Regions from separate parts of the Homo sapiens genome. Here region 2 is linked to region 1. A link means that fine-mapping ties the variant in region 1 to the expression of a gene that starts in the linked region. Tissue or cell type: whole blood. Region 1 holds a variant in brackets; the other region holds the start of a gene. All regions are shown on one strand. Distances are from middle to middle.

Evidence for each region. PIP is the estimated chance that this variant, and not a neighbour inherited with it, causes the effect. A credible set is the group of variants that fine-mapping cannot tell apart.
Region 2: PIP4K2C starts here. The variant in region 1 is the best candidate, but not a certain one, in a credible set for the expression of PIP4K2C in whole blood (INTERVAL, PIP 0.70).

What each region holds. Positions count from the first base shown.
Region 1 is chr12:57,551,482-57,554,237 of GRCh38, reverse strand. The region is part of intron 1 of KIF5A (kinesin family member 5A); the gene reads right to left. Among named protein-coding and RNA genes, the nearest start is that of KIF5A, 2.8 kb to the right of the region's middle. The variant C/G (reference allele first, on the strand shown) is at 1,511.
Region 2 is chr12:57,589,633-57,592,260 of GRCh38, reverse strand. It overlaps PIP4K2C (phosphatidylinositol-5-phosphate 4-kinase type 2 gamma), which reads right to left and starts at 1,069. Exons shown (of 10, transcript NM_024779.5): 1 at 798-1,069. The coding sequence starts at 971. RefSeq lists a silencer at 972-1,231 and enhancers at 830-1,331, 1,412-1,461.

The sequences.
Region 1 (2,756 bases):
CACATGGCTGAGAAATGGTAGAGCACAGTTTCAAATTCAAGCAATCTGATTCCAGACCCACACTGCAAAGTGATCCAAGAACTGAAATGCCAACACTGTGTCAGAGCCTTATCAAGGCTTTTTCTTCCCCTACTCCATATCCCCCCTCCTCACATTTGGGCATTTTTCCAAGTATTTCCAGACAGAACTAAAGCCTTTCATCACTCCCTTTTTCCAACCTCAATCCCATTTTCAGAAGTATGTAATTCTGCCACCCACCCTCTCTACCTCCAGGTAATCGAAGACTCTGTGAGTTGTTAATGAGAAATAGTCACAGAGTCCCTCCTCCTCTTAGAAATGTCGCCGAAATCCAATCTCTCTCCCACCCCCAGCAGTCTAAGTGCTCCTTATAGCCTTCTCTGAAGGGCCTCTCTTCAGAGTCCCACAGTCCAGGGTTCTTTGTTCTCTTTTAATTTAATCACACTCCGAGCCTCCCTGGTGTCTCCTCTTCCATTTGTGTATCCCAGCACCTTTCTGTACTTTTCTATCATGTGTGCTGACTGAAGCTAATTGGGGCTGGGGGTTTAAGATCAGGGGTCCAAAGATGACCAACCTGTTCAACCCTCAGTAAAGCACTTGGTATAAGCTGAACTTCAAGTGCCAGGCCTGATTTCCATAGTGACACCCGTGGGGATTGTTGCCATGGTAATGCTGGAGAGACACTGGCCACAATGAACGTTACTTCTCGTCTCCATTTTTCTTTATGAGACTCCCCCAAAGCAAAGGACAGCCCTGCTCCCCACTTCAGATATCAAATCCCAGGCCACCCCAAACAATACTGATTCTGCTCCAATAACCCTGCAGGTCCCAACCTAGCTTTGCCAAGTGAGGTACACAATGGTCCTAGTTTCTTGCATTAAGAACCCACTTAACCATTGGGAGACCTGAGGGAGGTAGCTGTGTACACTTGAATGAAGGGGAAAGAGAAAGAGTGTGTGTGTGTATGTATGTGTTTCTTCACTGTCATCCCTCCCACATCTGGTACAGATGCAGCAGTCCAGACAGCAGGCACTGGGACACTGCTGAGAAAGACCAAGGCAGAGGAAGACAGACACTTAAATGGGTCTGGCGAAAAAGTCACACTGGATTCTGAGTGTGCAAAAGCAAAACAAGATGGGCACCACACACAGACGGTGACCCAGACACCCTTCTGCTATGACTCAGGCCATTAACTTTGGCTAAGCCCCATCCCCCAGGTTCCTGGAAGAAGTCAGAGGAGTAGGGGAGAAAAAAGGCACACAGAGCTGTCTCTCCAGCTTATTCTCCTACCCTCTAACAAGCAGAACAAAGCCCACGAACAGAAGGGACTCTGAAGCTCAGCGCTGGCCGCAGTGCTGCAGAGGCGAAGGGGAGAGCAGTCACAGGAAGGAGTAGGGGCTGCATTGGGAAAGATTATCTCTCCCACCTTCACTCTTCCCGCACCTTCCTAGACATCCTGAAGCAGCCTCCCCCATTAATTCCTAAGCCAGCT[C/G]CCGACCTGGTGGGCTCCAAAAAGAGCTAGAGGGGAAAAGAGAAAAAGGAGTAGGAATTTCCTTCCCTTGTTGGGACCCTCAAGGGTCTCCTAAAAATCATGTCTCCTGTAGCCCTCATTCCCTAAATGATGAATGAATATTAAGTCTGAAAAAGCAAACTCCAAGGATGTTGCCTAAGACAAAATGGCCCCCCCGTAAGCATTTATCTTCAAGTGAGAGATTGACAGGGAGGGCTAGGGTGAGGGAAGATACGAGCAAGACAAAGGTACAGCCCTACAGATATCAGGCAAAACAGACAAGGAAGATCCAGCTGTGGAGCTGAGATGGAATCTGAATTGGCAGGGGGCCTGGGGCTTCTATTCATCTTTCCTCCTTGCCCACCTCCCACTGTGTGTCTCTCCTGTTTAGCTGGGCTAACAACAGATCGACACCACACCCCTCTTACCAACATCACCCCCTGCCCCATCCCACTATACTAGGATGGCCCAGAGAGCCTAAAGGAGTTGGTTCAGTCTTACTGGAAAAACCTCCCAGAGCAAGGAAATTGGGCCTAAAAGTTTTGCCCCCATCATCACCCTCCTCCTGTTTCTCAGCCTTTATGTCTCAGGGGGATCTGAAGCTCCAACTCTCACAACTAATGCTGGCTATCCAGGACACTCTGAGAGGGGTCCTCCAGAGTTGATCCAGGAGTTGTTTTGTGGTTGTTTTGTTTTGTTTTGTTTTGTTTTTAGCCCAGCCAGACTGAACAGACTGCAGGGCCAGCGAGGTCCCTGAAGCAAAAAGAAACAGAGGCCCTCTCCATGTGGCAAATACATACACAGAGAGAGAGAGAGAGAGAGAGAGAGAGAGAGAGACCAAAAGCATCCATTTGAGTTAACAGTGTGGGTAAGGGTGCAAGGTGGTGACAGACTGGGGCCCTTGGGGACTGGTAAGCAGGTCTCCCCCGAAGCATGTTTATTCAAAGTCCCATTCTCACTGACTCAGAAGGCCCAGGCTTCCTCCCCTTCTTTCCTTCATTCCTTTAACAAGCCTGTGTCCAGGTGCTCTGTGCCAAGCACTGTGGATAAAGATACATAAGAAGCACCTCTGACCTTGACTGCCCTCGTACATGCCCCTCCCTCCTCAAGCTAGTTTTTGTTTCCTGGCCCAGCACCCCTCAAGCCCTACAGGACTCGACCCCAGATCTTTTCTCCCCACACACAGCCTGAGGTCCCTACCAACCTCAGGGGGAGTGGGCAAGGCCTA
Region 2 (2,628 bases), 38 kb before region 1:
GGATGGAGGTCTCCTTGGCCTCCTCCTGACTCCCAGAGCAGTTTCCTGCTTCAAAAGTTCACCACCATAGTGACCTCAGGAACAGAGCCCCTCAGCCTTCTCTTTGGTCAACAATCGCCACCACCTACACCAAACACGATCGCTCTAGCCAGCGATAAGGATGCAGTTAAGACCAAAGGCATATATACATAAGTCCTGAGAGTGTGCAACTTCTAGCTCAGGGTGGGGTAGCTTCTCTAAAATGCTGTACCTCTGGAAGGGAAAGGAAGGGACAAGCAGGATTAGAAAGCCCAGGAAACCTGGAGCTTCCCCGAGACAAAACCAAGATTCAAAAGCCAAGGACCGGGGCTGGGAAGCAAGGTGGAAAGCAAAGTGAAAGAACCTTTTCATCCATCTACTCCCCTCGGCCCCTCACCCTCCACCTACACTCTCACCAACAACCACCCGAGAAAAAGCCACTCCCCCTAATGTCCTCCCCGCTTGCGCCCGGTCCTGGCCAGTCCGCGTAGCCTGAGGCTGAAGCTAGACATGGCAGGAAGGAGTCAAAGCACAGGGAGCTGGATTTCACGGGGGGAAGGTGGAACTAGAGTGGAGCAGTAAAGAACTGTTGGGGAGAAAAAAGTCCACAGTCAGAAAACCTGCTGGGGGAACACCTGGGGTTGGTGGGCAGGGACCAAGACAACCCGGGGGAGGGGAGTGGCACTGCGTGGGGCTCCGGAGGCTGGAGCCTGGAAACAGGGACGCCTCGGAGCCGAGGGGTTTGGACAGGGCTGCGGGGGTCTAGGGCTGGTTCTCACCGAGTGGGCTACGCCCCACAGGAACACACCCACCAGCGGGTCGGCCGCCCGGAACACCTTCACCTTCTGCTGCACGAAATGCTTCTTCTTGGTCTTGGAGGCGAAGCCGAAACCTGGGCCGGGGCCTGCTGTCGCCGCCGATACCGTGGCTGGTGGGACCGAGGAGGACGCCATAGTCTCCCGCGCAACCGACCAAGTGGAAGCCGGAGCCGGCAGCTATCCAGGCGCCCGACCCCGGAAGCGGCGCTCACCTGCGCTGCTGTCACGTGACCGGAGGCCGGACAGCGGACGCGCGAACAGGGCGAGGCAGGACGGGGCGGGGCGACGCTGGCCCCGCCCCCCGGCGCCTGCCTGCCTGCCCCAATGTCCGCTCAGTGTGTGGGCTCACCTGGCGTGCGGGATCCCTGTAAGCTGACGAAGCAAGCGGCCCGCGAGGCCCCTCGAACTGTCAACTAGGAGACCGTGGTGCGGCCTGGGCTGGCCTGATTGACTCCCAAGGTCTAGGGCTTCTTTGCTGCAAAGTGGCCGCCTTCCGGCTTTGCCCAGTTTCTAATGAGTAACCTCGGACCTGATGCTAATGCGAAAGCATTCTTACCGAATGGGGGTTGGGAAGGGGAGGGTTTTGGAAACCCAAAATTCTTACCAGTGGTCTCAAGCGTCTTGAAATTCATTCATTCATTTAACAAGTATTTATTGTGCACTTAGTTGTACTAGGTCCTGTTCTAGGGGCTGATTTTCCTTTTATTGAAGCAGGGTATAGGACAGTGACTGCCCCGAAGTAGTTGGGAGTCTAATGGCACTGGCTGGCCAATGGAGATCAAGTTTGCAGTATGCAAAGTATGAGCTATCCTAGAACTGTGTATGAAGCAAAGACAATGATACAAAGAAAGGAAGTGTAGCTGGTCAGGGAAGGCTTCAAAGAGGATAGAGACTTTACTGAGTTTGGAAGGGTGGGTGGAGTTCAGGAATAGAGGTTAAAAGGCTGTCTAGACAAAGAGAACAGCATACAAAGACATGGAGACAAGAAAGAACGAAGCCGGGCGCGGTGACTCACGCCTGTAATCCCAGCACTTTGGGAGGCCGAGGCGGGAGGATCACCTGAGGTTGGGAGTTCAAGACCAGCCTGGCCAACATGGTGAAACCTCGTCTCTACAAAAATACAAAAATTAGCCGGGCATTAGCCGGGCGTGGTGGCGTGAGCCTGTAATCCCAGCTACTCAGGAGGCTGAGGCAGGAGAATCACTTGAACCCAGGAGGCGGAGGTAGCAGTGAGCCGAGATCACGCCAAGCAGAGATCACGCCAAGCAGAGATCACGCCACTGCACTCCAGCCTGGGTGACAGAGTGAGACTCCATCTCAAAAAAAAAAAAAAAAAAGCCGGGCATGTTGGCAGGTGCCTGTAGTCCCAGCTACTTGAGAGGCTGAGGCAGGAGAATCGCTTGAACCCAGGAGGCAGAGGTTGCAGTGAGCCCAGATCATGCCATTGCACTCCAGCCTGGGCGACAGAGCAAGACTCTGTCTCAAAAAAAAAAAAAAAAAAAAAAAGCCAGATGCGGTAGCTCACGCCTATAATCCCAGCACTTTGCGGGGCCGAGTCGGGAGGATCACCTGAGGTCAGGAGTTGTGGGCAAAGGATTACCCAGGTGCCAAGGCAAGAGACTGAAGGCACAAACTGTTGCAGTATAATAAAGAAAATAGTTAGAATAAAGAGTAGTTACAATACAAATTAGATATAGAGATGATCATGGACAATTATCAATCATCAGTATAAACATTATAAATCATTAGCTTTTAATATTACTCTTTGTGGCATTACTAATATAACCTAGGA